Homo sapiens: one gene and its partner. The protein of the gene in region 2 interacts with the protein of the main gene of each other region in a pairwise test. Each region holds a gene or a part of one and is shown on either strand. Other genes may lie near its edges. The genes, in order: CCM2 and VSTM2L.

Region 1 (16,183 bases), on a different chromosome or scaffold from region 2:
AAAATGTACCCCACCACATAAACCAACAAGGGAAACATTTCAGTTTCCACACCTGACCAGAGAGCTCATGGTGACAACACACAGGAAGCAAATTTGATTTTTTGAAAAAAACCTGTATGGAATTTTAAACTATAGAATAGACATAAAGATTTAAATAAAGGCTTCTCTCTTTTTTTTCTCCAAGGTACAAAAACAACATGTGAAATGGTTATCTCCCACTCCTCAACTAGGTTTCCCTTAAGAACAGTGACACCACGGGTTTAGGCTGACCAGTCTTCTCACTTTCAGAAAAGTGAAAAACCTCCTTGGGTTACAAGACACACCATCATCCTAAGCTGCAAACAAAAGCCCAAATTCCATGTTCCTATTATGCTTATTAAAGGGGATCACTTTCATTGCACATACATCTAATGCCTATGGTCAAATGCCCTAATTCTTAACATAATCCAAGCAAAAAATTGTTACTGTTTGGGCACACTTGGGAGAAAAAAAAAGGTCACATTTTTGGCACAGACACAAGGCTAAGGAAAAAAGTTCTTATTTTTACAAAACAAACAAACAAAAAATCCTAATGGTTCCATTGACAAATCCAAATGTAAACTCCCTCATACCTGTAGAATCATTTGAAGAGCAGTTGCTGTTCTTGATTGAAAGATAAAAAAGCCAAGGAGTGCGAAGCGCGCTAACAAAGATCCACTGTTCACAAGGACACAGCGATGCATGCAGAGGACATGGCTGGGCTCACTGCTCCCGCCACAGATCCCAGAGCACAAAGCCTGTCCCAGATGAAATGAATGACATCCCTGACTGTGCCAGCTCCCAAAACACCATACATGTTCTCCCAACCACAAAGAGTGTGCTGTGATTTATGGTTTACATACAGCACAGTGAGGGTTGTCCTGTCACTCTGAGCAGCTCGTCCGTGGCCATGTTGACAGTGTAGACTTGGTCCTCAGAACTCACCCCAGAGACCCTAAGGCAGCCAGCAGATGAGGCCAGAATGACCAGCAACATAAGGCTTGTTACTCTTCTGTCTTGATGAGTTACTACTGCACTTCTATCTACAAACTGAACTCTAGGGTTTGCTTCAAAATCACCTGGTGCATTAGCCTTCTTGGGCTGCCAGGACTAAGTATTATAGACTTGAGTGGCTTCAATAATAGAAACTTATTCTCTTAGAGTCTAGATGCTGAAAGTCCAAGATCAAGGTAAATTTAGCAGGGTGGTTTCTCCTGAGGTCTCTCCTTGGCTTGCAGATGGCTGCCTTCTCCATGAGTCCTCCAATGATCATTCCTCTCTGTGTCCTAATAACTTCCTATAAGGACATCCATCAGATTGGATTAGGGCCCACACAATTACCTCATTTTACCTCAATCACCTCCTTAAAGACTCCATCTTCAGGCCAGGCATGGTGGCTCAAGCCTATAATCCCAGCACTTTGGGAGGCCGAGGTGGGTGGATCACGGAGTCAGGAGATTGAGACCATCCTGGCTAATACGGTGAAACCCCATCTCTACCAAAAATACAAAAAAATTAGCCAGGTGTGGTGGCGGGCACCTGTAGTCCTAGCTACTCAGGAGGCCGAGGCAGGAGAATGGCGGGAACCTGGGAGGCGGAGCTTGCAGCGAGCCAAGATTGCACCACTGCACTCCAGCCTGGGTGACAGAGCAACAAGACTCCGTCTAAAATAAAAACAAATAAAAAAAAAAAGACTCCATCTTCAAATACAGTCACATCCTGAGGTCCTGGAAGTAGGGGCTTCAGCACATGACTCTGAGGGGACACTATTCGGCCCACACAGGCAGGAAGCAGGAATGAGGAGAAGGTGCACATGAAACTGACTGCCCACACATGGGCACAGGGGACTTCGTTACATGATTTTTTTTCTTTACATTTGCTTTTGAAGTTTTCATAAAGGTGTTCCTGATCACTCTTACCAAAGCCTGCTCCCACCATCCATCCCCGGGCTCCACTTCCTGCTCTGCAGCCACAGGCTCACCGTACACATTTCAGTCTCCAGCATCTGTGTCTGACACCATTGGTGCTAATAAACAATAGTTTAATGGACAAGTGAATGCATGATGTGGAACACCTCCAGTGGCTTCAAGTGCATACAGAACCAACACCCAACTTCCCAGCCCAAGGACTTCCCAGGACTGGGGGGTCCTCTCCACCTCATCTCTGCTTCTGAACTGCAGGACACAGTCCCGGTCTCAACCTGGCTGGAAGTGGCTGCTGCCTGCCCCATGTCTCTTCTGACATCCTAGGTCTGCCTTTAGTCTCTAATTTTAGGTGTAAGTGACCTACTTTCCAAAGTGCAATGTCCCTAACCCTCTTCTCAGTGGGCTAAGCACATAATAGGCAAGGCATGACCAAGTTATCTCACTAAAAACTTGTATCGCCACCACGTAAACCAACAATAGAGGGTGATTTAAATGCTCAATAGTTAGGTTTATAGGACTTAATCATGACCATTTACTTACACTGCAAAGTGACAACAAGGAGGGGGCACTGCTGACGGAAATGAAAAAACTGGAAGATCAAGAGTAAGCGCCCCAGTGGGGCAGACTGCAGACGCCCTTCTCGTCTGCAGGGAAGCCCTTCACTGCAATAATATTGCTAAGAGAAACGTTTTGCTTTACACTATCTTCCTCTGAAAGGATGCTCAGAGCAGCCCTGGAAGGTTCTGATGTGCTTTCTGAATCTAAATTATGACAGAATCTGACAATATGTTGAAAATTAACAAATACATACTATGTAAATGGTAACTCTTCAAGACAGAAAAGTAACCAGCCTTATGTTGCCGATCATTCTGGCCTCACCTACTGGCTGCCTTAGGTTCTCTGCTGAGCACCTCCTGCCTGGTTCTCCAGCCTCCTGACCCTGAGTTACCAAGTTGCCATCCAAGAATCACTGCAATAGCTACCCAAGAGGAAAAATAAAACAAAATATAGCAGCCCCAATTCACCTTCTGAACCCAAGTATGGCTTGTGACAGTTATAGAATCGGTTTAGTGGGTCATGACCATGAGCCTTTTTTTTTTTTTTGAGACGGAGTCTTACTCTTGTCGCCCAGGCTGGAGCGCAATGGCACATTCTCAGCTCACTGCAACCTCCATCTCCCGAGTTCAAGCAATTCTCCTGCCTCAGCCTCACAAGTAGCTAGGATTACAGGCCCCACCACCACGCTCAGCTAATTTTTGTATTTTTAGTAGAGATGGGGTTTCACCATGGCTGGTCTCAGACTCCTGACAGGTGATCCACCCACCTCAGCCTCCCAAAGTGCTGGGATTACCAGTGTGAGCCACCGCACCTGGCCAACCACCAGTTGTAATAGAAAGAAAAAAAAATAGAATTAAAAAATCAGAGCGTTTAAGTGTGGTTCCTTTAAACTTTCACTTCGGTTATACAGACACACACATTTATGTCTGCATCAGGTCAGCATGGAGAAGGTATGGCTTCCTGGTGCCTGCAGTGACCAAATTTTAAAAGGTACTGGTCCAATCCAAGCTTTCAGTTCCTCACAGACACTGGTCCAGCAGTGACTACAGCAGCTGATAGTTCAGGGCCTGTAACCTAGAGGATCTTTTCCCCTCCACTTTTTATTATGGAAATTCTCAAAAATACATAAAAGTAGACAGAACAATATATAACCATTACCAAAGCATTCAGCTATCCCCTTTGTTTCTTCTATTTTGAGTAAAGCAAATCCCAGAAATCATATTATTTCACCTACAAATATCTCAGAATACATGCCTATCAGATCAGAACTTAATTATCATACCCAACAAAATTAATAATTCCTTATTTATTATTTAATATCTAGTCCTACATTTCTAGGGAACTTTATAACCTTTTTTTTCTCTTTTTCTTCTTGAGACAGGGTCTTGCTGTCACTCAGGTGGTGGCACAATCACACTCACTGCAGCCTCGACCTCCAGGGCTCAAGCGATCTTCCCTTCTCAGCATCCCAAGTAGCTGGAACTACAGGCATGCACCACCATGCTCAGCTAATTTTCTTATTTTTTGTAGAGATAGGGTCTCACTACATTGTCCAGGCTGATCTCAAACTCCTAGGCTCAAGTGATCCTCCCACCTCAGTCTCCCAAAGTGCTGGGATTACAGGCGTAGCCACTACACTCAACCTATAACCTTTTTCTACCTTAAACAATGCAAATAAACTAGATGAATGTAAAAATATTTAACTTTGATCAGTGTGAAATCATAGCCACCTGGTGGGGCAACCGAAGACCAGAGGCAGCAGAGAAGCTGAGACCCACAAGGTTAAGGCCACAAGATGGTTTTTTTTTTTTTTTGGAGATGGAGTCTTGCCCTGTTGCCCAGGCTGGAGTACAGTGGCATGATCTCAGCTCACTGCAACCTCCACCTCCCGGGTTCAAGAGATTCTCCTGCCTCAGCCTCCTAACTGGGATTATAGGCACATGCCACCACGCCCAGCTAATTTTGTATTTTTAGTAGAGACGGGGTTTCACCATGCTGGCCAGGCTGGTCTCAAACTCCTGGTGTCAAGTGATCCGCCTGCTTCGGCCTCCCAAAGTGTTAGGATTACCTACACCCAACCCTGACAAGACAGCTTTTTTGGGCTGTGATCTGAGTATAAAAATCCACACAACCCAACTTAAGTGCATCCAAGTTTCTAATAAAAAGGAATTACTGTCAGGTGCGGTGGCTCAGCCACCCAGCACCTTGGGAGGCCAAGGTGGGTGGATCACCTGAGATCCGGAGTTTGAGACTAGCCTGACCAACATGGAGAAACCCCGTCTCTACTAAAAATACAAAAATTAGCTGGGCATGATGGCACACGCCTGTAATCCCAGCTACTCGGGAGGCTGAGGCAAGAGAATCACCTGAACCCGGGAGGCGGAGGTTGCAGTGAGCTGAGATCGTGCCATTGCACTCCAGCCTGGGCAACAAGAGCGAAACTCTATCTCAAAAAAAAAGGAATTACATAGTGCCACAATGCACAGAACATGAGTCCATACCGTAGGTAGGAGCCTTATTCTCCAAACCCCAAAACAGAACTTGTAGGCTAAAAAGTAGACACTCTGTAGACATCAGGACAGAAGAGCAGCCCCAAGTGGTCACTTCTACTCCCCAGGCCCCACACCTTTAGTGGCCAGAGGACTTTTCTGTCAATGCACTCATTCCTTCAGATGGACCCATGAGTGATCCATCTCCCCATCAGCTCCTGGGGGCCACAAGCTCTTCCTGTATCCCCATCACCCAGTGAGTTTCATGGGACACAAGAGGGGCTCAACAGACATTTGTTAAACGAACCATGGCCCACTTGAGGAAACCCAGGTGTACAGTCATCATCACCACATGTGCTGAGGTGACTTGAGAAAGGGCAGTGATACACTGGGGCCAAGTTTCCGTGAGACTCACTTTGGTCCATAGGTTCTCTGCCAACTCACTGATTCCTGTGTCCTGAGGAAAATGGGCCGAGGTAAAAAAAAGCCTGAATCACTGCTTGGCAGACACCAAGACAAGTGTCTGAGATTAAAAAGAAAAAAAAAAAAAAGGCCCACCTGAGCTCAGGTGATCCTCCTGCCTCAGCCTCCCAAGTAGCTGAGACTATAGGCGAGCGCTGCCGCGCCTGGCTAATTTCTGTATTTTTTGTATAGATGGGGTTTTGCCATGTTGCCCAGGCTGGTCTCGAACTCCTGAGCTAAAGTGATCGAGCCTTGGCCTCCCAAAGTGCTGGATTACAGGCGTAGCTACCATACCCAGCCTAATTCTGCATTTTTTGAAGAAGCTAACTTAGAAGAATTTAAGCGTCCAAACTGTACCTTCATAAAACTATTGTCAGCACTTCTGCTACTTATGTCTGAATTTGTGTATAAGTTTAGAGCAATGCAATTTACCTTAATGAGAATGATTTAACCACCGAAGTTATTAAACTGGAGGTGATCTCACATTGAATGTGGTAGCTGAGCAGGAAGGTTCTGCCAGCTTGCAACTGGCAGAGTACACGAGGTAGTGTTAAGTCATGACCTGGAGAAGAATCCATGCCCCAAAGCTCCTTGTCTGGCTTGTCTACAGGAAACAAGCTAAGACAAGTGGCAGAATACAGAAAAAACACAAAACCCCTGGCTTAAGCAACTACATAACAACTGATTATCTCCTCTAGTGAGAAAATGAAATTAATAATTAACCTGTTTATGCCTAAATTTTTTCATTACCCAACTGGAAAATTCTTGATAATTTTACTGTTTTTTCACTTGTACCCCAAAAACAGTCTTACTGCTTCTCTCTCTCTCTCCCTATTTGCTGGGTGTTTCATGTTTCTACCAAAGCTGATAGACAGCTCTAGAAAAAAAAATCACTCAATTCCATCCTTGCCTATCACACACAGGTAGATGGGCCAGGTACTCCTGTAAGCGGTGCACAATGAGGTCATCAGTCCTTAGCGCGCTCTTGGATCCCGGCATTCCACAGAGCACATGGCTCACTTTCCGCAAAGCTCAGCATCATCCACACTCGGGCCTGATGGTCCCTACTAAGCAGCCACCGGGTTAGCACCTCTCCTTTCCAGCTAACTCCTTTTACACTGCTTGGCTCCTCCCTCTTCTGTGCGCAGCACGCATCTCTAATCTAACACCTGCAGGCTGAATCACTATCTTGAGCTATTTTCCAGACTTAAAACATCTTTGTAGATAACCGCAAATTATACTGCACCTAAATTAGACATGCATGGTGCTAACATGAAACAATGAGTTGAGAAAGTAGAGAACCAGCACCACAGGACTCCCTGAAGGCCACCTGGCTACATTCTATTTCAAACAGGACTTTTAAATGGGGCACTCTGTCAAACAAGGTGGTGAGTAGCTGTCAATTAAAGGACACTTCCCTGCAGAGTTCAGGGTAGTAAAATCATAGTTAGGAATTATCGAGGTCTGCTTTAAACTTGTGGATAAAAGTGCGCACACACACATCAAAAAGAAAATGATAGCCAAGACGTGAAGATTATAAAGCATTTATTTGAAAAAGATACATTTTATTAAAATCCATTTTCCACTTTAATGGTAGTTCAATCCACATCGTTTTTCCAGTCTTAAAATGTTTCTTTATCGACTACTATAACCCTTTACTGTAATTAAAGCCACATTTTGTAAAACTACATAAACTGGGGTTTGACTATGAACTATGTCCTAAATCCCACTGCCAAATGTAGCTAGCGTCACTAAAATCAATCAATGGTTTTAGGTCTGAGTGATAGTGGACGAGTGAGCTGGCCATAAGGTGAAGGCCACCCTTGCTTTTACTGGATATCCAAAAACGAAGTCCAGTGAGCAGCAAACGTCTCCACGTTAACCACACAGCCCACTAGCTCCAGTTCCAGCCCTGGACAGCTTTCTGGCCCCTCGCCGGGCCCACTTCCTCTGCAGCCCCAGGTCCCGACGCGCAGGGAAGGCCGTCTGGGGCCGAGGTCGGGGCGAGCCGCTGCCCGGGCCAGAGGAAAGGCGCGGCGCTTCCTGCCCGCCCGGCCGCGAAAGCCCACCTGACCATTGTCCGGGGTCTCGCCCTGCCCCGCCCCGCCCCGCCAGCTGGCCCACTGCCCCCCCCCCCGGGCCCCAAGGAACACCCGCCCACCCCACCCTGGCCCCTCAACCCAGCCGCCCGCCGACCACAGCAGTAGGACGCCCCCGCGCACGCTCACCTTCTTGCCCTTCTTGCCCTCCTCTTCCATATCGCCGCGTGCGGCTCCCGCGGCCCGCCCGGCCCGCCCCGGGAGCCCCGCCGCCAGCAGCCGCTACATGCTCGACCCGGGCCCGCCGCCCCCGCGCTCCCGGCGCCGCCCGCCAGCCGGGCCCGAAGTCTCCGCCCCGGCCGCGCCCCACACCCGCACTTCCGGGCCCGAGCCCCCTCCGCCCCGCCCAGGCCCCACCTTCCCCAGCGCAGGCCCCGCCCACGGTTGTCGCTCATCCTCACTTTCAGGCCCAAGGGAATCCGACCCGCAGCGATCAGACCCCGCCCCTTCAGGGAGAACACGGCCCGTTGGCCCCGCTCACGGCGAGAGCACCGCCCACAGGCTGAAGATCCTGCCCCTTCAGGACGGCCGAGAACGCGCCTGCCTTGCACCACCCCCACCCCGCCCCGCGTCCTTCAGGAGAGCCGGAAACGCTCCTACCCCTACTTCGCTTCTGCACGGCCGCGAGAACGCACCTGTCCAGCCCCCTGTTCGCTCCGCCCACTCAGCGCGCGCGGGAGCGCGCGCGGGAGCAGCTCCAACTTTTTCAATTTGCCGCCATCTTTACGGCGGCCGACTTCCCAGCCTGCCTCGCGTCCAGGGAGGCGGAGCTCAGGTCTCTGAAAAGGGGACGGGGGGCGGGGGACGGGGGACGGGGGCCGGCGGGAGGGGACGCGGCCGGCAGATGGCGAAGGAGGGGCGCGAGGAGGCGGCCACTGTTGAGGGGCGGGGCGTCCCGCCGAGAGTCTGGGTGCGGTGCGGTTTTCTTTTTTCTTGTGTCCCACTTTATTCCCTGAGCCACAGGGAATCCGTTTTCTAGTACTTCTCTGTTATAAAGTCTGCCTGCCTTAGACAAACACATTTGGAAAATAGAAGTGCAACCACAAGGATGTGCAGACCCTATCAGAATAAAATCGTAGAACCTTACCAGTCATCCGGTATAATTTCCACATTTTCCAGATGAGGTCCGGGGAATGAGGTGATTCGCCCAAAAGCACACTACAAATTGGAGTCACCAGCAGGTCTGCTATTTTGCCACTAAACCAATCTGCCGGTAAGAACTTTGTAGCACAGCTAGAATGTAAACTGTGTTTTTTTGGTGGTTTTTTTTTTTTTTTGAGACGGAGCCTTGCTCTGTCGCCCAGGCTGGAGTGCCAGTGGCGTGGATCTCGGCTCACTGCAAGCTCTGCCTCGCGGGTTCACGCCGTTCTCCTGCCTCAGCCTCCCGAGTAGCTGGGACTACAGGCGCCAGCCACCACACCTGGCTAATTTTTGTATTTTTAGTAGAGACGGGGTTTCACCATGGTCTGGATCTCCTGACCTGGTGATCCGCCCACCTCGGCCTCCCAAAGTGCTGGGATTACAGGCGTGAGCCACCGCGCCCGGCCTAATAATTCTTTATATTAAACTTTTCTTTACTGTGTTTCTGTCTCCTGACTGGGCCTATGTTATACTGATATTCAAAAGAAATACTTGGTCTCTAGACCTCTCCAAAGGCATAAGTATTCCATTCTCTGCAAGATAAAGCAGAGATAGTGGAAACACCCTTTCAATCTGCCTTCTGCAATAATCCAGCTTGCCACATTTACACACGCAAATGATGTAGCGCATCTGGTTGTCATTATTTTCCCACCATTCACAGAACAAAGGCCTGATATTTAAAGTCTTCCACCGTCTTCCACAAATGCATATTTATCACTCCATAATACAGTAAACAACACTACTAAAACTTCTCTTAGCCTAACTCTGGATGTGCTGACTTCCTCAGGCTGTTCTTATCCATCAGAATACCTTTGCCCTGTCTTTGCATACACAGGTTCATGCTTCAAGCAAAAGTCCACTGGCTAATGATCAGATGGTGATAACTGGGAATAAAGACAATAAAATGAGAAAAGCAAAAAGGCTGTTAGCTTGCTATAACAAGGGAGTCAGCCACCATCATTTGTATTTGGATGAGACTCAATGTCAGGCAGAGGAGTGGGTAAGCTTTATAGTGAAAAAAGGGAAGCCTCCAGGGATGTCCTCATTTGAGGCTGTTGGCCTGGGGAAGCAAGGGGCAGGGCATCCCAAGTGATTGGTTAGGGGCACATATTTGTCTTTCTCTGGTTGCTCCTAAGCTGGAAGCAGGACCGAAAACTAGGAAAGCTGCCAGTTTTTTTTTAATTGACAAATAATTTTTTGTTTCTTTTGTATTTTTAGAGATAAAGTCTCACTCTGTCCTTCAGGTTAGAGTGCAGTGATGCAGTCATGGCTCACTGAAGCTTCAACCTCCTGGGCTCAAGCAATCCTCCCATCTCAGCCTCCCAAGTAGCTGGGACTACAAGGACGCATCACCAAGCCTGGCTAATTTTAGTATATTTTTGTTGAGACAAGGTCACACTATGTTGCCCAGGCTGGTCTCAAACTCCTAGGCTCAAGCAATCCTCCCTCCTCAGCCTCCCAAAGTGCTGGGATTATAGGCATGAGCCATCGCACCCAGCTAACACATAATAATTGTACATATTTATGAGGTACATGTGATTTGTGTGTGTGTGTGAGGCAGAGTCTCACTCTGTCACCCAGGCTGGAGTGCAGTGGCATGATTTCAGCTCACTGCAACCTCTGCCTCCCAGGTTCAAGCAATTCTCCTGCCTCAGCTTCCCAAGTAGCTGGGATTACAGGCATGCACCACCACACCAGGCTAATTTTTTTTTTTTTTTTTTTTTTGAGACAGAGTCTTACTCTGTATTGCCCAGGCTGTAGTGCAGTGGTGCAATCTCAGCTCACTGCAACATCCACCCCCCAGTTTCAAGCGATTCTCCTGCCTCCGGAGTAGCTGGAATTACAGGTGCCCACTACCACGCCCGGCTAATTTCTGTATTTTTAGTAGAGACAGGGTTTCACCATGTTGCCCAGGCTGGTCTCGAACTCCTGGCCTCATGTGATCTGTCCACCTTAGCCTCCCAAAGTGCTGAGATTACAGGCATGAGCCACTGCACCCGGCCAAAATACATGTGATATTTTGATACATGCATATGATGTGTAATAATAAAATCAGGGTATTTAGGATATTCGTCACCTGAACACTTATTTCTTTGTGTTGGAGACATTTCAGATCTCTCCTAGCTATTCTGAAATATACAGTACATTGTTATTAACTATAGTCATCTTACTCTGCTATGGAACATTAGAATTTAGGCTGGGTGTGGTGGCTCAAACCCGTAATCCGAGCACTTGGAGAGGCTAAGCTGGGAAGATCACGTGAACCCAGGAATTGGAGACCAGCCTGGGCAATATAGTGAGATCCTTCTTCTACAAAAAATACAAAAATTAGCTGGGCATAGTGGTGTGCACCTGTGGTCCCAGCTACTCAGGGGCCTGAAGTGGGGTCCTTGAGCCCAGGAGGTCGAGGCTGCAGTGAGCTGTCATTGCACCACTGCACTCCAGCCTGGGCAACAAGCCAGATCTGTCTCACACACACACACACACACACACACACACACACACCCATGAGAAATTATTGCTTCTATTTAGCTGTATGTTTGTACACGCTAACCAACCTCTCTTCAGCCCCCTACTTTCCCCCAACACACACCCTTCCCAGCCTCTGGTGGCTATCATCCCAGTCTCTATCTCAATGAGATGAATATTTGTTTAGCTCCCACATATGAGTGAGTAAATGCAATACTTGTCTTTGTTTTTTTGTTTAAAAAAAAATTTACAGGGATGAGGTCACTATGTTGCCCAGGCTGGTCTCCAACTCCTAGGTTCAAGCCATCCTCCCACTTCAGCCTCCCAAGTATTGGGATTACAGGCTTACATAGTGACCTCTAGCTCTATTTATGTTGCTGCAAATGACATTTTCATTTTTTTTTCCTATGGCCAAATAGTATTCTATTGTGTATATATACTAATTTTTTTTGACATGAGGTCTCACTCTGTCACCCAGGCTGGAGTGCAGTGGTATGATCACTGCTCACTACAGCCTTGATCTCATAGACTCAAGAGATCCTCCCACCTCAGCCTCCCCAGTAGCTGGAACCACAGGTGTCTGCTATCACACCTGGCTAATTTTTTTACTTTTTGTAGAGATGAGGTCTCTATGTTGCCCAGGCTGCTCTCAAATTCCTGGGCTCAAGCAATCCTCGCGCCTCAGCCTCCCAAAGTGCTGGGATTATAGGCTTGAGTCACCACGCTCAACCTTATTTTTTGTCTTTTTTTTTTTTTTAGAGACAGGGCTTCCCTCTGTTACCCAGGCTGGAGTGCAGTGGCATGATCTTAGCTCACCGCAGCTTGAGCTAAGGAGCTGGGCTCCTGGGCTCAATGGATCCTCCCACCTCAGCCTCCTAAGTAGCTGGGACTGCAGGTGCGCCAACACCCTTATTTTTTGCCTTTTTGATAATAACCATTCTAAATGGGGTGAAATGGTATCTCATTGTGGTTTTGATTTGCATTTCCCTGATGACTCATGATATTGAGTATTTTTTTATATGTACCTATTTGTTTTTTGTACATCTTCTTTTGAGAAATGTCTACTCAGATTCTTCGCCCACTTTTTAATGGATTATTTGTGGTTTTTTGCTGTCAAGTTGTTTGAGTTCCTTGTATATTCTGGATATTAGTCCCTTGCCGCATGAATAGTTTGCAAATATTTTCTCCCATTCTAAAGGTTGTCTTTTCACTCAGTTGATTGTTTCCATTGCTGTGCAGAAGCTTTTTAGTTTCGCTTAATATAGTCCCATTTGTCTATTTTTGGTTTTGTTGCCTATGCTTTTGAAATTTTAGCCATAAAATCTTTGCCTCGTTCAATGTCTTGAAGCATTTCCCCTATGTTTTCTTCTAGTAGTTTTGTAGTTTCAGGTCTTATGTTTAAGTCTTTAATCCATTTTGAGTTGATTTTTGTATCTGGTGAGAGATAGGGTGCCAGTTATTAATTAAGTCCTAGGCTTTGGGGGCTGTTAGAAAAGTTACTCCTGGATTGTCACTAGAGATAACACCTGGCTTCCTGCAAGTATGACTTACAGCAGGCTTGTTTCCTGGGCTGGTTGCTGTAGATAACGAATTGGTTTCCTGAGGAGGTTTCTGCAGGTTGTCAGTCAGAGTTCTAGTTGTACAAATGGTCCAGCCATTGTCTATTTGTATATTCAGTCTCTCGTAACAGACACCAATGAGACAATTATAACATAAAACAATCTTTTCTTTCTCTCCAGGTCACACCTTGGCTGTAAAGTGTCCTAACAGCCACCTACTTATGATTACTGCTTTCTTACCAATAACCTCCCCAGCCTGTTGTGTGGCTCCTACATCTTGAACAAAAGCGACCAAGGTACCCAATTACTAAACTGCCCACACTTCATGAAAGCAACTTTATAGCCATGATACTCACTTCCCCTTGTCCCCTCTTCAGAATTACTCAGGGCCAGCCCAAACCTTACAAAGTCCCCTTCCTATTCCCTCGTAATGAGAAGCAGCCCTTCTTCCTCTGGGGTGCTCTCCCTGGTCATGGTAGGTTAATAAACCCAAATCTTTTTGCCCAACTGATTTTTGTATTTTAGTAGAGACGGGGTTTCACCATGTTGGCCAGGATGGTTTTGATCTCTTGACCTCGTGATCTGCCTGCTTCGGCCTCCCAGAGTGCTGGGGTTACAGGTGTGAGCCACCGCGCCTGGCTTAAACCCAAGTCTTTTAGACTGCTGGTGAATTTGGCTGTTGAGCTTTGTGACCCAGCTCAATAATCACATCTTCCACTAAATTTCTGGATGCAATTTTTCCCTCCTCCAGTTTCCAGATAACTGTATCTGTATGTCTGTGATGCTAGAGTTAACCAGGTTTAGGACATTTCCTCTACTAGAATAAGCTCCTTTGAAGGTACGGACTATGTGGGATTCCTCCTTGTATCTGAAATAAACTCTAATAAGGGAAATTATGTACACTGAGCCAGACTGAGGTGGAGGGGCACTGGCAACATTACCTGAACATAGTTTCTCATAGATGCTTCCCAGCTAGGCCCTGTTCAGGTAATGTTTCCCTGGTTTTAAGAAAACCCCTAAACACTGAAAATTTACACTTAATTGGCCTATTCAAAGACAGTGTTCCCAGATTTGCATTTTTGCTAGATTTCAGCCAATTTTTTTTTTTTTTTTGAGACAGGGTCTCACTCTGTCACCCAGGCTAGAATGCAGTGGAACCATCTCAACTCACTGCACCCTCAACCTCCCAGGCTCCAGCTATCCTCCCACCTCAGTCTCCCAAGTAGCTGGGACTACAGATGCACACCACCACACTGGCTAATTTTTGTATTTTTTGTAGAGACAGGGTTTCACCATGTTGCCCAGGCTGGTCTTGAACGCATGGACTCATGCAATCCATCTGTCTTGGCCTCCCAAAGTGCTGGGATTACAGGCATGAGCCACTGTGCCCAGCCTTCCAGCCAATTTTTTTTCTTTTTTGAGACAGAGTCTTGCTCTATTGCCCAGGCTGGAGTGCAGTGGCATGATCTTGGCTCACCGCAACCTCCACCTCCTGGGTTCAAGTGACTCCTGCCTCAGCCTCCCGAGTAGCTAGGATTACAGGCATGCACCACCACACCCAGCCAATTTTTGTATTTTTAGTAGAGACAGGGTTTCACCATCACCATGTTGGCCAGGTTGGTCTCAAACTCCTGACCTCAGGTGATCCAGCAGCCTCGGCCTCCCAGAGTGTCGGGATCACAGGTGTGAGCCACTGCAGCCAGCCAACCAGCCAATTTTTTTAAGTGAATCTTTTCACTGGTCTCGAAACTGACTGCAGTTGTTTTCTTATTGTGCCTCTCAGCCATCTGTCCTTGAGTCTATCAGTTGTCTCCCTCATATGAGAACTGGCTTGCAAATAACTAACTAGATGTCTCTGATTTCTGTTTGTTTGTTTTGAGACAGAGTCTCGCTCTGTGGCCCAGGCTGGAGTGCAGTAGCACAATCTTGGCTCACTGCAACCTCTGCCTCCTGGGTTCAAGCGATTCTTCTGCCTCAGCCTCCCGAGTAGCTGGGACTACAGGCGTGTGCCACCACGCCCTGCTAATTTTTGTATTTTTAGTAGAGACAGGGTTTCATCATATTGGCCTGGCTGGTCTCGAACTCCTGACCTCATTCATGATCCACCCGCCTTGGCATCCCAAAGTGTTGGGATTACAGGCATGAACCACCGCGCCTGGCCTTCTCTGAGTTATTCTTTGACGTATGACATGCAACACTTTGACTGTTGTGCACATGATAAAACCATATAGACTTCATTAGTGAAGGAAAGACACTTCAGAGTTGATTAGAGTGAACTATCAGTGAATTTTAATATCCAGTTTCCAGGCCTATAAATCATGAAGGACCAAATCAACTCTGGATCAGAATGACCCCTCAGAAATACAGCCACACTGTGTGGCCCCCAACGGAAGCAACCTTGCAAGTTCCATTTTGACATCTCATTAGCTAACACTGTTTATTCTTCTAGAGCCAAATTGCTAATTTTCTTTTCAGGCATACATCTGTAGGAGACCAGAATATGCCACCCCAAAATATGCCTCCTTGGCCTAAGGATTATTCTGAGCTAGTAATTTTGAGAAACAGAAGCTATGAAAACAGCATAAGCTACCCCTTTGAAAGAGAAATTCACCCCGGCCACCACCCCGTCTGGGAAGTGAGGAGCGTCTCTGCCCAGCCGCCCCGTCTGAGAAGTGAGGAGCCCCTCCGCCCGGCAGCCGCCCCGTCTGGGAAGTGAGGAGCCCCTCTGCCCGGCCGCCAGGCCGTCTGGGAGGTGTGCCCAACAGCTCATTGAGAACGGGCCATGATGACGATGGCGGTTTTGTCGAGTAGAAAGTGGGGAAATGTGGGGAAAGGAAGGAGAGATCAGATTGTTGCTGTGTCTGTGTGGAGAGAAGTAGACACAGGAGACTCCATTTTGTTATGTACTAAGAAAAATTCTTCTGCCTTGGGATGCTGTTAATCTATAACCTTACCCTCAGCCCCATGCTCTCTGAAACATGTGCTGTGTCCACTCAGGGTTAAATGGATTAAGGGCGGTGCAAGATGTGCTTTGTTAAACAGATGCTTGAAGGCAGCATGCTCGTTAAGAGTCATCACCACTCCCTAATCTCAAGTACCCAGGGACACAAACACCGGAAGGCCGCAGGGTCCTCTGCCTAGGAAAACCAGAGACCCTTGTTCACATGTTTATCTGCTGACCTTCCCTCCACTATTGTCCTATGACCCTGCCAAATCCCCCTCTCTGAGAAACACCCAAGAATGATCAATAAATACTAAAAAAAAAAAAAGAGAAACTCACAGTCTTAAAAGAAATCGCTCTTTGTAAGGGTGTCTCCCTCTCTGTACCAGGAAGAGAAAGTTGACTCTAAATCACCAGAGACCCTTATCAATGGAGAAGGCAGCAACTTGTTTTGTGTGCTTCTCCGGGTCTTTTTCCCAAAACTGGCCTTCCTCACTCCCTTCTTTGTTTTTAGCTGAAGATG
Region 2 (16,503 bases):
AGAGGGGAGTATAGTAGACAAAAAACAGCATTACCCCAGCCCCTCTCCCCATCCTGGCACTTTAAGAGCTGAAGTGAAGTCACCGAGGAGCCACTGTCCCCCACGCCTCAACACAGGGGACAGAGAAGGCCCCATCCCTGCCATGACCCCTGGGTAGGGCCAGGGCATCCTCGGCGTTGGGGGCTCCACCCACCTGGGCCCTTGTGCCAGCACACACTAAATTGCCGTGTGACGGATCTTTATTAGCCGCCCGCTGTGTTCTGGCTGCTCTGCCTACTTCAACAGTCTTTGCTCCTTTGGGAAATAAGGCAGAAATCTCCTCACTAATATCCCCAGCTAATAACGGGTAGGGCTCAGCTTGCACACCTCCTGTGACAGGGAGCTCACTACTGGGTACCCTCCCTGCCCCACAGGTGAGTGTCCTTCTCTGTGTTTCTGTGTTTAATATCATCCCAGCTTTTTTTTTTTTTTTTTTTTTTTTGAGATGGAGTCTCACTAGGCTCACTGCTATCTCCGCCTCCTGGATTCAAGCAATTCTCTGCCTCAGCCTCCCGAGTAGCTGGGATTACAGGTGCCCGCCACCATGCCCGGCTAATTTTTGTATTTTTAGTAGAGATGGTGTTTCACCATCTTGGCCAGGGTGGTCTTGAACTCCTGACCTTGTGATCCACCCGCCTCGGCCTCCCAAAGTGCTGGGATTACAGGTGTGAGCCACTGCGCCCGGCCCCAGCTTCTTAAATCTTATCACAATACGTATATATTCTTCTTCTTCTTCTTCTTTTTCTTTTTTTTTTTTTTAAGAGACAGGGTCTCACTCTGTCACCCAGGCTGGAGTGCAGTGGTGCAATCACAGCTCACTGCAGCCTTGAACTCTTGGGCTCAAGTGATCTTCCCACCCCAGCCTCCCAAGTAGCTGGGACCACAGGCATGAGCCACTACACCTGGGTAATTCTGTATTTTTTTTGTTTGAGAGACAGGGTCCACTATGTTGTCCAGGCTGGTCTCAATCTCCTGGGTTCCAGTGACCCTCCAGCCCCAGCCTCCTGAGTCATTGGGATTACAGGTGTGAGCCACCGCACCCAGCTCTATACTTACATATTCTTTATGGGTTCAGTTTTCTGTCTCCCCTACTAGACTGAGAACTCTAAGAGAGCAAGAACCTTAGCTGTCTTCTTCACTGATAAGTTCCCAGTGGCTAAAAGAGCCTGGCACATGACAGGTGCCCAATTGATATTTGTTGAATGAATAAAAGAATGAATGAATGACCAAGCTTCCCAAACATGGCAGCAGCCTCATTAGGCCAGTAGCTCCCAGTATGAAGAGTATGGAGCATGCAGTGTGACAGGGCAGCCTGTTGGATGCCCCCGGGTCTCCAAGTCATGTCCACACTGTGGATCCCCACGGACATGCCCACGCACCGCCTGCGCTATTATGTCCTTAATGTTTTTCTATAAACTAACCCACCATTTTTTAATACCCCCATTAGTCTCATCCTAAGCAATCATATGTGTGAAATCACAGTTTTGATGTGCTAGTTATATTTTTTCAGTACACATTAAAATAAATGCTTAACTATTAAAATGTAAGAGGTTTCTCTAGGTTCTGCCTAAAATCATCTCTCCGGTAGGACCCAATCTTGTTGCGGGCCCTGGGGGGTTTTGAAGAGGGTTGAAACTGGGGGTGAAGTGGAGCTGAGTCCCAGGGACGCCCTGATGGCTTCAAGGAAGGGAAGGGAGGCCTGGCTGTGAGAAGGGAACCTGGAGGAGCAGCAGCCCCTCTCTGCCTCCCCACTGCCACCTCACTTCTCTGGAGCAGTGGGAACCAGGGGGAGCCAGCTGGGTGGGCTCTGGACCCCAGGACCAGCAGCTAGGAGAGGAGCAGATTTCTTCCCCAGCTGGACCACTGCTGCTTTTTCTGATGCAAGTGCCTCATCAGGGTCAGGGGAGAAGGGCGCGACCCTTGGACTCCCCCATCCTCATGGCTGCAGCATCACATATGCACCCCAAGGCCAGAGCCTGGGCCCACCCACTGCAAGGTGCCATCAGCCTTGCCCACTCCAGGATGTCCTTGCTCTGCTCAGCAGGGATAAGGAGGGGGCTCCAATTTTGTGATTTTTTCCCCCTATAAACATAGATTCCTTAAGAAATTAAAATCATTTGAATGTTTAAAAATATATTGACTTGGAATGAGCAAAGCTTTAAGAATTCAGACCTCATCCCCTGCTTCGTCCTCCTCGTCATCCATTCATTCATTCCCTGCCACCTCCCTGGGCCGGGCATTGTCCTGGGTCCCAGGACACAAGGGAATCTGACCCCAGTGTGCCCAGCGGGCCCCAAACTCCTTTCAGGACTGAGAGAGTCTTCCCACAACACCATCAGCAGCTGGTTTGGTCCCCAAAGTCCAAGGTGATGGCCAAACACTCTCACGTGGGCACCTGTGCCGCTGTTCACACTACACACTCTCCCCATGCTTTCGAAAATCGAGGGAAGTTGGAGGGTCGCTGGGATAGCATTCTGTTCCCACTGCTGCTCGCCCTCCTGGGTGTGGAATGCGGAGGCCATTGCACTCCTTCCACCCCAGAGCCAAGCCTCAAGTCCCAGCCCTGCTCTTCCCCTCTGTGTGACGTGGGCCTCTTCCTCCTCTTTCCTTGGACTCCCAGCCCTGAAGCCAGATTCTTCAGTTCAAGTCCAGCCTCTGACACTTGGTAGGTGTGTGACCTTGGGTAAGCCACTTAACCTCCCCGAGTCTCATTTTCTTCATCTAAACAGTGGGCCCGAAACAGTCTTTCCTCTTGGAGTTCTCGTTAGAATTGAATGAGATGATACCATTCAAGGCCCTGGCATGGCACTCAACACACACTTGCTTCCATATGTTTATCTCTCCTCTTTTTATTTTTATCTATTTATTTACTTTTGAGACAGGGTCTCACTTTGTCAACCAGGCTGGAGTGCAGTGGCACGATCTCAGCTCACTGCAACCTCCATCTCCTGGGCTCACGTGATCCTCCCGCCTCAGCCTACTGAGTAGCTGGGACTACAGGTGCGTACCCATGCCTGGCTATTTTTTTGTAGAGATGAGTTCTCACTGTGTTGTCCAGGCTGGTCTCAAACTCCTGGGCTCAAGTCATCCACCCACCTCAGCCTCCCAAAGTGCTGGGATTACAGGCATGAGCCGCCGTGCCCAGCCAATCTCTCCATTTGTACAGAGTTGGATGAGGTAATCCCAAAAGCCAAGAAGTACCCTCCAGGGCAATTCTGGGCAAATTCTCCCTTGCCCCTGGGTCTCTGTCTTCTCATCTGTAAGAGAGAGGCTTGGGACGATGGTCCCAAGGGGCCTCCATGATTCATTCCAAAAGCTCCATCTCCTGCCCCCACAGCCGGTGGATCAGAAGGGGTCACTTACCCGACTCCCCTCACCCTGCCCACTTGTTTGCCGCAGGCGACTTTGCCCACCATCCTTGCTGTCACCATGGCAAGGAGCCAAATTCCCTGCGTCCTGCTGGCCGCCTGCGGCTTCTCTTGTTTGGGGAAAAGGCTGCAGGAGCTGCTGATGGGCAAGGTGTCAAAACCAATTGGTGTGAAGGACTTGGGGAAAACCGCTTGTGAGGGCCAATTCCCCACAGGAGGCCGGGAAACCCTCAGCCCAAGGCAGAGTGTTTACAGGCGTAATTGATAGAATAATCACCAACGCCCGAGACAAAGACGAACACATTTTTAACATCATAACCTTTGGAAGACAGGACTCAATTTTCTTCATCTTCCAGCCACCAAACTAGCCAGCTTATTGATGGTGAGATACCAACAGTTCAGTAAGGAATGCGAGGAAGCCAGAGTCATTTTTCAGTGCACAGGCTGCTTGCCAAATGGCCCGGTGCCCCCTCCCTCCCCCAGCACCCTGCTGGTCCCTCCTGGCAACAGAGAGAATCTCAGGACAGTGAATCACTCAATGGACAAAGCCCCCGGCCAAGCCAGGATCTTTGTCTGCACTGGGGTATATGAATAATTGAAGGTGCTGGCCTAGGGGTGGGTGTGGGTGTGTGTGTGTGTAGGGGTGTGTGTGTGTGGCAGGGTGGGGGTGGGAGGGGAGTTGTCTGCTGCAGTGTGAGGCTTCTTGGAGCTCCTCTCAGGGACCATCCACCTGCCCCTGTCTGGACCTCTCCCTCCCCTGTGAAACCAAACCAAGCCAGTCCATAGCGTCAGACATTTCCTGTCCCTACATCTCCCACCAGGTATGGGTAAATACTTAGGCAGTGGCTTCCAAATCCCAGGCTGCATGAGAATCCTCTGGGGAACTTATTAAAATGCAGATTCCACTAGATGCGGTGGCTCATGCCTGTAATCCCAGCACTTTGGAAGGCCGAGGAGGGAGGATGGCTTGAGCCCAGGAGTTCAAGACCAGCCTAGGCAATATAATGAGCTCTCATCTCTACAAAAAATTTAAAAATTAGCTGAGGGTGGTAGCACATGCCTGTCACTCCCAGCTACTCGGAGGCTGAGGTAAAAGGATCATTTGAACCCAGGAGGCAGAGGTTGCAGTAAGCTGAGATTGTGCCACTGCACTCGAGCCTGGTCAATAGAGCAAGATCTTGTCTCAAGAGAAATTAAAAAATAATAATAAAATGTACATTCCAGGGTCCCATCAAATAACCATTCTGGCAGCGGGTTTGGGGGATCTGCATTGTAAAAAATTCCCTGGGGGACTCTGCCATGTGAGGCTTCTTGCAAGCTGTAGGGGTCCTCTGCAAGCTGTAGGGGTCTACAGAGATCTTCACAAAGACCCTGCCCTCTGGATCCCTCCCCTGGACAAGATCTGGAAAGATCCTGGGGTCCAGTCCAGCTGCCTGTTTCTAACCTACAGGTATCCTCAGCAAGATCTTGCCACCTTTCTGAGTGGCTGGTTCCTCTTGGTGGAACCCACTGCTTTACTGGTTCCCTGAGGAGCTAGAAGGGAGAAAGCTTGGGTTACGGCTACAAGAAGGAAGACGCCATGGCCAAGCCTGCCTCAAGGCTGTTCTGGAGGAGGCAGTCCCAGAGCTGCCAGATGCATCTTCATCTTAAACACAGCTTTCCAGCTCTCTGTACAGACTCAGCACCCTTGGGTAAGTCACTGGCCCTCTCTGAGCCTCAGTTTCCTCCTATCTCCAACACCAACCTTGCATGAATGGTCAGCCTGAGTGAGTTAACACTGGCAAGGGCTTGGCAGCACGGGGCACACAGTAGGCATTTCATCAATGCTTGCACCTTTTCCTCCCATCCCTGCTGTGCCCATGGGCAATGAGTTAACATTTTCTGATAAGAAAAAATCAAAATCACTCCTGTTTATTGAGCACCTACTAGGTGCAGACACGGACCATCACCACCCCACCTCCCAGTGCCTGATGCCTCCTTGAGATACATGCTCCCCATTCATTCCTCACACCTCGAAAAAGCCCTCTTCCAAGTACCTTGAGTGGAGGTGGGAGGGAGATGGGAAGCAAAACAGATGTCCTTTCTGACCCATCTGACCGCAGGCTTTCCCTGTGACAAGCTCCAGGGCAGGCAGGTGGAAGGCAGGAGCCCGGCGGCCGGGCTGGGCTCAGATGGAGTTGGAGGGGTGAGCAGCCACCAAGCACTTGGGGTCAATGTGCCCCTCCCCAGGAGCCCCTGCTTCCAGCCCCCACCCCCCACCCCCAGACACAGAGACACCTTCCCGACTGGGCCACATTTCCTGAATCAGCTGAGGACACACGGAGCCCAGGAATAATGAAATGATCAGGCCCCAATCTGCTAAACAGCAATTTCTGAGCTTTTTCAGCACACACAGCTTTTATCAAATTGGTATTCTCCTCCTGAACACAAATAGCTTATTAGACATGACCCACTTATTCGCCGCGTCTCACTATCATTAATAACAGTTTCTTTTTGTGATTAAGTGAGTGGCTCCAAACCCTTCCTGTGGTGGCGGGTGCTTGGCACGGCAGAGGGGCAGCTGTGGGGGCTCCTCGGCAGTCACTACTTGGTGACTTTGAACCTGGCAATGTCGGGGGAAGGCAGCCTGGCCCCTGCAGAGCAGCCTGGCTTCTTTGTTTCTTTAGGGACACAGGGAGACCCAGAGGGGTGGCTCACTTGCCCAGAGCCACACGGGGGTTTCAGGAGAGAAGCCAGGTTCCCCAGCAACTAGGGGTGCCTCCTTCTCATCTAGCCCCTGTCCTGGGCCTTAGCTTGACCTTCCAGGGTGCAGAGGGGAGATTACAGCTGGTTGGGCAGAGCTGTGCCCCCTCAGCTTACCTGGCACCAGGGGACAGGTAGAGACTGTCACACAAAGGGCAGACAGACCCTGCTTTTCTATGGGGGGGAGCCACCTTGGGGCCTTGGGAATAACAGACTGGCACCCAAGTCCCTGGGGTCTGGTGCTCTAGGGACAGAACGACCATAAGCCTCAGAGTCCCATTCCTCATACCCCTCGGGACTGCAAACTCAGGGAAGGCCCTCCATGGAAACCCCTCCTAGTGTAAGTTCCAACTGTGCCAAGGGACTGAGCGGAGCGAGGAGAGGAGGGGTGGAGAGGGAGGAATTCCCAGTTTCCCTAGAATGGGAGGGAATCTGACAGGGAGATGAATGTCCTGGAAAAAAGCGCTGTCTTTGCCTGACAGACCCTGGGGCCTGTCCTGGCTCAGTCACTCTCTTACTGTGTGACCTTGGGCAACTTCCTTCACCTCTCTGAGCCTTGGTTTCCCTATCTGTAAGTTGAGGATCAAAAGAACCCTTTCCTTATTTACCACCGCTCTAGCCAGGTCGGTAGAAATGAGGTGAGGGGCATGAAGGGTATGTAAATGATGCACACAGCAGTTACTACCAAACATGGTGAGGCAGAAGGGGGCGGGGAGTCATGGTTCCCAAAAAGCAGAGACCCTGAGGATGGCTTCGAAGCCCCCCTCTCCACTGGAGCAATCCCACTCATGTGTCATACCCCAGCAAAACCTTCCCTGATTATCTACCCTGCCTTACCCCCACTCACTCCCATCAGAATAAATCATCCAATTATCTGGCCTTTGTGCAAACCTCCCCACAGCCCTGGGCCCACAGTGCCCAGCACTGGGGCTGCAGCCTCCCCAACAAGGCTGTCAGCCTGTCTAGTGAAGGGCTGCATGGAAGAAAGGTCTCCTTTGGTTTCATCTATGCTCGAGCCTCCATCCCAGAGCCAGGCTCACAGGGGTCAGGGGGAGCCCCCACAGCTGCCGGGCTCATACAGTCCAACTCTGCTGCCAACTTGGGCTCCTTCGGGGCTAGCAGGAGCTTCTGACACTCAGCCAGCCAGTGCTGGGAATGCTTGTCTGCTCCCCGGCTTCCACAGCGGCTGGAGTTGAGATTTCCCACATTTCAGTCCTCTAGGGCCGAGGATGAGGATGGGGGTACCCTATGGAAGGATGGCACGGCTTCCTGCCCATCCCCAGAGGCAGACAAAAGCACCCGGCATTCCACTTCCACTCCCACTCCCATGCCTCTGGCTGCAAGCAGCAACCCCAACTACTCCGGTGGCTCTGAGGGGCTTCCACCAGGTGCCACCCGCCCAACTGGGAGGCTGCAGCCCCAGGCGACCAGTTCTCAAGAAACAAGGTCTTCTGCCCCCAAGGACCTTTCCAGTGGTATAGGGCTGGGTGTGGAGAGGAAGAGGACAAGGGCCTCTGTGCGGTTAAACCCAGAAGAGTAAAGGCAGATGGGCAGAGAGGAGTGGGTGAGCAAATTGTGTTCATGTGTGTGTATGTGTGTGCCTGTGTGTGTGTGCGCGCGCGCGCACCAGTGTGTCTGCAGGTGGGCAGGCAAGAGTTGTGGCGAAGCGTGTGCGCCAGCTGGCAGAGTGAGCCCACCGGCGCAGTGCCTGATGTGCGTGTGTAGTGGGCATAAGTGTAAAGGCTTGCAGTGAGGAGGGGGACCTGAGGTGTGTGGAGATGTGCAGGGTAGGAGTTGTGAGTGTGAGAAAGCAGCGACTGTGGCTCTGAGTGTGTCCGCGGCTGTGCATATCGGTGTGGCCATGCAGGTGTGCGTATCCGCGCGAGTGTGTGGGGAGGAGGTTCGGGGGTGCGCCCCGGGTGCCCCCTTCTCTGCAGGGCCAGGGTGCCAGGGCGGGTCCACCGCGCCGGCAGGGGGCGCCCCGGGATGCCCGCCACGACTGGCGCCGGTTCGAGCCCCGGGGCGGCCAAGTTGGAGTGGCGCGGCCCGGGTTGGGGTTTGGTGGGGAAGTCCGCGGGGGCGGCGACCGAACTCACCGTGGCCGGAGACGTGGTTGTCCCAGGGCGCGTGGCCGGCGGGCCGCGTGGCGCCGCCGAGTTGCAGGAAAAGTGCCAGGTAGTGGAGGGCGCCCAGCGCTACGGCGAGCGGGGCCCCCATCGTGCGCTCTCGGGCCGGGGGCGCCGCCGCCTCACATCTGGGCCCCGGAGACCGCAGAACCGGCGCCAGCTGTCCCCTGCCCTGAGCGGCCTGGCTGCCCGGCTCCGGCAGCTGCCCCTCGCCCGCTGTCCCCGGACCCGGCCCAGCTCCCAGCCCTCGCCCGGCTCCGGCCCAGCCCCGGCTTCGGGGAGCGAGCGCACGCCCAGCCGGCCGCCTCCGACTGCGGGACTCTTCCCTTCCGCGGAAGGCCACGCCGCGCCGCCGCCGCACCCTCCTCCCTCCTCCCGCCTCCCTCCTCCCCTCCCTCCTCCCCTCCCTCCTCCCGCTCGGAGCAGGCGGCGGAGGGATCTGCCGCTTGATTTATCATCAAAGTTTTGCCCAGGCTGGGATTTTTAAAGCGGTACCCGCAACTTTCCCCCGCCCGAGTGCGGAGGCGGGGCCGGGATGGGGCGGAGAGAGCCACCCCAGGGACGCGGTTCCCGCAAAGCACGACCCAACGGGCTTCAGCCACAGAAATGCCGTCCAGCGGGGAGAGGGAGAAAAGCCAGGGCACCCGCCGCCAGGCCAGCGCACTCAGAGGCTCCTAACTTTACCGGCAGGGCGGGGCCGGGGTCAGGGGCCAGTGGGGCTGGGGGTGAGGGCGAGGTAGGGTGGGAGCCTGGGCTGAGACCCAGGGGACCTGGTGATAGCTCTGCCGCCGACCTCGGCTCGCTGTGTGATCGCGTCCGGGTGTCTACCCCTCTCTGAACCTCGAAGTCTTCATCTGAGAAATAGGGGTAATAGCTGTCTGCGGGGGTCCTGGTGAGGATTTGCGAAATCGTGCATGCAAAGCGCTTAGCATAATGCTGCCTACGTGGTAGGAGCTCAGTAGTTATTATTGTCGGTGTTCCCCTTTCTGGGACTCAGTTTTCGAGTCTTTGTAATGGGAGAGAGACAGGCCAGTTAGTTGTTGCGGCTCCTGGCTCTTGAAGATACTGGACCTTATGTGGTGGATGGGATCGCCCCCTTCTGGACTGTAGGCTCCTTCCCTAGACCAATGAGCCTTGATGGTGTGTGTGTGCATGAGTGTGTGTGTGCGTGTGCGTGTGCGCGCGCGTATGCGTGGGTGTATGTGTGTGTGAGTGTGGCAGGGGAGGGGGATAGGGCACCATTCCCATTCCCAAGAGCAAGAATCCAACAAAGTCCTCCAGTTCCTTCCCAAGCCGTGTTACTGGGGCTGATGGGACAGACAGGAGGGCGGAACTGTGGTCCCATTTAAAAGATAAGGAAGCGCCTGAAATCAGGTAATTAGCTTCTCTGAGGTCCCACGGCGAGTCGGGCGAGGCCCCTGACTCCTGGGCGGGGTCCCTCCTGCTCTCATCCCTTGCCCTTCCCCAGGCCTCCCTGCTCACACAGCCTGGTCCTCCCGGTTTCAGCACCACGGAGGAGGACAGCGCCAGCCCCCCCCCCGCCCCCCGCCCCCCGCCCCACCCGGGCCCATCCTTTGGGCACCGTGGACAGCGTCTCAACTGGCCCTTTGATGCTAGGGTTCACACCGTGGACAGACCCTCAGACTTTCTTCCCCGTCCCCGTCGAACAGGGTCAACCCCTCCGACAGCCCACTCCCCACTCCAGAACACAGGTGGATCCCGCGTCCAGCCGTGTGTACAGCGCCCAAGTTTGAGAACAAGGTTAGAGACCAAGGAACATAGCCCCTCGCCGTCTTCCCTCTGTCTTAGCGCCCCCCTTCCAGTATTATGGGGGGGGGGTAGCACACCGGATGGGGCCCGTGGTAGCCAGCAACAATCCAGCTCCTTCCAAACTAAGGACACCTCCTCCACGATGTCCCGCACTTACAAGCACTGTGTTCTAGCACCGTCCACAGCCCCCGCGCTCCCTTCAGTACCGAGGACAGGTCCCAAGCGTCGACCGCTTCCCCCACCCCCCGAACCTTCTGGACCACATGCCTTGGAGGAAGGGGCCGTGTTTGCCTGATTCTCTCACTTCTCACTTTCTTCCCACACAGAGGTGGTGTTTAGGTTATCCTGGGCTGGCCAGGCGTCTTGGACTCTATGCACGTGTTTTCTCATTCATTAACTACCCTGAACCCCGCTCCCAGCGAAATGAACTACTGCTTCCATCATAAAGATATGGAAACTGAGAATCCTCCAGATCACATAGCAGCCACCATGTTAGCCAGACTAAAACCCAGGACTCCTTCAACCCCAGCCTGAGGCCTCACCAGGAGACTGTGGTGACAGAACTGGGACTCAAACCCGGGCTTTCTCCTCTTAAACCACAGATTGGAGGGAGCAGACACAGGCAAGGGGACAGGGAGGGAGAGGAGATTAAAGAGGAGTAAACAAGAGATTGCTCAGGCCTGCAGAGGAAGGGGGTCTGGCGGGATGGCAGCACATTGCTGCTGTGCCCCTAGCCCACCGGCTGACCTTCAGAAATCTTTTCTCTTTGAAGCCTGGAACAAGGTCAAGGTTCCTTCAAGGACAGACATCCAGGGATTGTATGCCTTTGAAAATGCTCGTGATCGGCCAGGTGTGGTGGCTCACGCCTGTAATGCCAGCACTTTGAGAGGCCGAGGTGGGCATATCACGAGGTCAGGAGTTCGAGACCAGCCTGACCAACATGGTGAAATCCCATCTCTACTAAAAATACAAAAATTAGCCAGGAGTGGTGGTGGGCACCTGTAATCCCAGCTACTCAGGAGGCTGAGGCAGGAGAATCGCTTGAACCTGGGAGGCGGAGTTTTCAGTGAGCCAAGATCACACCATTGTACTCCAGCCTGGGTGACAGAGTGAGACTTCATCTCAAAAAAAAAAGGAAAAAAGAAGAAAATGCTCATGATATAATGGTTCTGCTAAAAAAACCCTCTGATGGCCTGTTTATGTGAGAAATCCTGACTTCTCTAGTTTGCATTCAGGGTCCCAGACTCACCTCCTGCACATATCCTGTGCTCTCTTGGGCATGCCTTGGCCTCATTACATCTTCAACCTTCCCAGTGCTTCCCCTGTGCTTGTATGCCTTCCCCTCTGTCTAGCTGAGTCCCCAGTTGGGCGAGGTCCAGCCTGAGTCCCCATGGGAAGAAATGCCTGCTGCCTTCTCCCAGTCCCCAAGCCTCTGTTGGCTCATCACTGTATGCCCAGCATGGCCCTAAGAACTTTCATTATTCCCCTTAATCCTCAGAACCACCAGGCCAGGTAGGGTAGGATGGTGTGGTTAGAAGTGTGGGCTCTAGAGCCATATTCTCTGTTTTGAATCCTGCCATTTGGTAGCTGTGTAAACTTAGACAAGTTGCTTAGCCTCCCTGTGCCTCAATTTTCTCGTCTGTAAAACAAGGGTAATAATACCTCCTTCACAGCAGGGTGGTGGGGATTAAATGAGTTGTTACATGGAAAGCACTTAGAACAATGCCAGGCACATGGCAAATACATGATACATGTTGACTAGTGTTCTTGATATCTACAGATGAGGACATAGGTTCAGAAAGGTTAGGTATTTTGCCTAAAGCGACATAGCAAGGCCATGATGTGTTTGATTCCAGAGCCAATCAAACATTTCATATGTTTGATTCCAACCTACCCTCTTGGCACCTTAAGAAACTAAGACCCAGAGAAAGTAATTCACTTTCTCAGAGCCACACAGCCACTCATGACAGAACTGGATCCAGGTCCTTTGTCTCCCAACTCAGAGACCTCCCACTATACTGTACTGTCCCACTTGTATTTCCTGCAGCACCTAAACTACACTTTACAGTTTACAAATCACATTCACACCCATGATCTCCTATAATTCATACAACAACCCCTGAGGCTGCTATTATACCCTTCCTTCTTTTACAGATGGAGAAACAAAGCTCAGAAAGATGATGTAACCTGCACAAAGTTGCACAGTGAGGTAGGGCAGAGGCTGAATGTGAACGGACACATCCCAGCCCATCCTCCTCCCCTGTGTAATTGTGCCTCTTGTCTGCTTCCCAATGCAAGTGTAATCTCTGGGCACCGTGGAAGCCGAGAGCCTAGTGGAGGCAGAAGGTAAGCAAAGACTAGCCCAGGAAACAGTCTCTAGGAATTCACTAGAGTGGGTGACGCCTGTCACTCATTTCATTCTGGGAATGCTGCAGGAGATGGAAAGCCTCCCATCCCTGGAGGCAACTAACATGCCTCTAGTGGTCGTGTGGATGCCATGAGGCAAATATCACTGCTATTTCCATTATATAAATGAGGCTCAGAGGTGAGCATCACGTCAAGTATTTCAATTGGGAAAGATGATATTTTTAAACTTCCCTCTAAGCATGGGATCTTGCACTGCCCCTTACTGCTGAGCCAAGCTCCCTGGAGAGTCTCCATACCCTCCCCTTGACTCAGACAGGCCACCCTCCCTCCCCTCCTTGAGAGGTGTCACTTGAGCACTGTGGCTCTGTCAGTGGTAACAGCTGTAAGATTTGTCCTTTTAATCCAGAATCAATAACAAATTTCATTTAAAAATAAATTAAACCAGGCATTGGAAATCATTCACCACGTGGGCTGGAGCCCTATATAGCACCATCTAAATGGCTTCCTTTTGCTCATCTATCAATGCCAAGAGTGGGGGAAATACCTAGGCTGCCTGATTCATGGAGAAACTACTTAAATGTATCAGCCCCTAACAATGAGCAATGTAAGCCTGGAGTTGCACCTTTTAGCACACCAATAACATGTGGAGTGAGGCTTCATGAGAGCTTATCAGAGCCCCCATGGTCACTGGCTTTGAGAGAGCCCATTTATAAGGGGGAACAATGGCTTTAGTATGTAGCCGCCTAATTTCCAGAATGCATTACTGAGCTCTGAGGAGCAATGGAATTCTATTAAAGTCTTATCTGCCATGGGAGGGTATGAAACCGGTGCGGAACTCCAGGCTTGGCATAGACATGCCCAGAAAGCAGCAGGGCTGACCCTAGGAGGTGGGTGAACAAGCCCAGAGGGAGAGGGGGGAGCAGGAGGGGCCCCGGATGTGTGAAAATATGTGTGTTAATAAGAGCTCCGGTTTCCAGCGATTACGTTTACATCAGTGAATAAAACTTGGCAATAAAACATCGGAGCTGCGTCTCAGACAGCATTTCCTTTTACAGCCTGGTGTATTTCACTCATTATAACAGGAGGCAGGGAGCGCGAGGTGTCCCCATTTCTCCCCCTTTAATTAAATTTTCTAAATTACTGCCCAAGATTTGGATAAAGCGAAAGACTTACAGCTCCCCTAATCGCCATCGAGGCTCCCGCCCCACCACTGTGGTGGCCCTGACTGTACCGGTTTCCAATATTATTAAAGTGAAATACTGTGGGCATTGCCTGCCTGGGCTCTGGTTTTTAAAAAGAGATGCAGCATCAGGAAGAAATTGGCCCACGGTCAGGAAAGAGGCCTGGGTTTCAGGACGGGCTTTGCCATCACCACCTTGTGTGACCTTGGGCAAGTTATTTCTCTTATCTGAGACTCATGACTTCTCCTTTTCCCCAGATGTTCATCTTGAGGCTCTTAGAATTGATCTGGAGCTGGGGCAGTCCTTGGACCCACACTGGGACGACTGGGGAGCTTTAAGAATATATGGGTGCCCAGGGCACACCCCAGAGATTCTGACATAATTGGTCTTAGGTGAGATCTGGGTATCAGGGTTTAAAAAAAATTCCCCAGGTGATCACAGTCCACAGCTAGGATTGAACACCATTGGCCTAAACACAGAGTTATTAGATATTACTGGACTTGAGACTCTCTGGAGAGGCTGGCTGTGGCCAGGCCCCACCCCTGGGTGTTCTCTTTCAGACTGGCTTTTCGGGGTGGGTATCTGGGAATCTGCCTGCTCACTAAGCACCCCAGGTGTGTCTCGTGCAGGGATCCAGTGGGCTGCAGTGAGGATTCCAACAGAGGTGGGAGGACAAGGGTTCCTTGAATTGAGCCCAGCCAGCCTCGTGGAATGAGGAGGCCCCTCTGCCCCAGTTCCCCTCTGGAGGGCAGCACAGGGAGCCGATATGTGACCTCCCACTCCGGTCTGGGGTACTTCTCTCCTCTGATGACTGATTTCTTTATCTGTTCCACTCACCGCTGGCAGGAGCCTTGACTGGCCTCCACAGTCACATCATGTTCCCATCATAGGAACCCCAGGTCTGGCCCCTCTGCCCATGTGGTTCACGATCGCCGCAGACCCAGGTTTTCCACATGGACGGACTCCGAGCCTTTATCTGCACTCTGCCTCCCGCAGGGCTCCTAGGCCTCCTAGGAAGGCCTTGTCTAGGCTGAGAGCCATGCTTGGGCCAAGGGCTAGGAGCCAGGGACAGCAGGGGGGCCTGGGCACAGGAAATTCATTCATTCTGGCTCCTGCCTTTGCCAGAAGTCCTAGGGAGTGTCCCTGACATTTTTCTTCTGGATTCCGGTCTAAGTGGACCACACAGAGTGAAGACATAATCTAAAACCTAAAACTTAAATTTAAAGCATCTTTTTAATTTATTTATTTAAGACAGGGTCTCACTCTACTGCCCGGGCTGGAGTAAAGTGGCAGGCACTATCACAGTTCACTACAGCCTCAAACTCCTGGGCTCAAGCAATTCTCCCGCCTCAGCCCCCGAGTAGCTGGGACTACAGGCATGCACCACCACACCCAGATAATTTTAAAAATATTTTGTAGAGATAGGAGTCTAACCATATTGCCCAGGCTGGTCTTCAACTCCTGGCCTCAAGCGATCCTCCCACTGTGGCGAATGGAATTACAGACGAGAACCACCATGCCCAGCCAGCATCTCTAATTTTTAACGGAGAAGGCCATCAAAGATCAATCCTCATGTCCCTTTTGTGCAGACAGAGGAACTGAGGTCTAGAAAGACATGGAGAGAAGCCTAGGATCTCACAGTGAGGGAATGGCAGAACGAGGCCAAAGACCCAGGTCTCCTGACTCTAGGCCGGGGTCCTTCTTCCACATGCCACTTGCCTGAGGAGGTCAGACAGGATCCATCATCACCTGTGCAGCCAAGCAGCTCCTCAAAAAACATCCAGCTCTGTGGCTTCCCAAAGAGGGAACTTCTCCGAGGCCCAAAGAACCTTTTGTCCTAGTCTGCTCAGGCTGCTGTAACAAAACACTGCAGACTGGTTAAGCAGAAATTAGCAGAAATCTATTTCTCACTGTTCTGGAGGCTGGAAAGTCCAAAATGAAGGTGCCAGCAAGATAGGTTTCACTCTGAGGCCTCTTCTCCTGGCTTGGGGGTGACTGCTGTCTGGCTGTGTGCTCACAAGACCTCTTCTTTGTATGTGCAGAGGAAGAGGGTGGGAGAGGGAAGAGGAAGGGAGAAAGGGAGTTCTCTGGTGTCTCTTCTCATTATTTATTTATTTATTATTTATTTATGTATTTTGAGACAGAGTCTCACTCTATTCAGACAAGGCTGGAGTGCAGTAGTGTGATCTCAGCTCACTGCAACCTCTGCCTCTCAGGTTCAGGCGATTCTCCTGCCTCAGCCTCCTGTGTAGCTGGGATTACAGGCACCTGCCACCACACTCAGCTAATTTTTGTATTTTTAGTAGAGACGGGGTTTCACCATGTTGGCCAGGCTGGTCTTGAACTCCTGACCTCAAATGATCTGCCTGCCTTGGCCTCCCAAAGTGCTGAGATTACAGGCTTGAGCCACTGTGCCCAGCCTAATATCTATTGTCTCTTTTATAAGGACACTAATCCTATCAGATCAGAGCTCCACCCTTCCTACTTCATTTAACCTTATTTACTTCCTTACCCCAAATACCGTACAGCCACATTGGGAGTTAGGGCTTCCACATATGAATCTGGGGGACACATTCAGCCCATAGTATCCCTCCAGGCTTTGGCCCTCAGATTTGAACCTAAACCCACAAATTGCACTCTACCAAGGCCAGTAAGTACATGTGGCTCGTATCTGTGTTGTCCCAGCAAGAAGCCTAATGACAATCCCCATCAAAGGCAATTAATTGCATCAGGGAGGGGTTCCTAGGGCCCTTCACCCTGCAAACCAAGTGCTTATTAAACACCGCGGGACAGCAGGGTCTCTGCCAATTACAAGGCCCTGCTTGTAGGAGTGTTTTTAAAATCCTGAACTGACTTTAATGGCGTGGTTAATGCCAGTCTAAATATTCCATGGTTGTGAGTAATTAGCTA

What was found.
Region 1: the proteins of VSTM2L (region 2) and CCM2 interact in binary tests that used the Homo sapiens proteins (3 or more experiments, as listed by UniProt).

What each region holds. Positions count from the first base shown.
Region 1 is NC_000007.14:44,991,861-45,008,043, reverse strand, and holds the start of CCM2 (cerebral cavernous malformations 2 protein), read right to left. Parts: upstream 7,844-16,183; 5' UTR 7,711-7,843; coding exon 7,681-7,710; intron 1-7,680. UniProt on the Homo sapiens protein: Component of the CCM signaling pathway which is a crucial regulator of heart and vessel formation and integrity. May act through the stabilization of endothelial cell junctions. May function as a scaffold protein for MAP2K3-MAP3K3 signaling.
Region 2 is NC_000020.11:37,895,214-37,911,716, reverse strand, and holds the start of VSTM2L (V-set and transmembrane domain-containing protein 2-like protein precursor), read right to left. Parts: upstream 8,591-16,503; 5' UTR 8,367-8,590; coding exon 8,246-8,366; intron 5,099-8,245; exon of another isoform or gene 4,556-5,098; intron 1-4,555.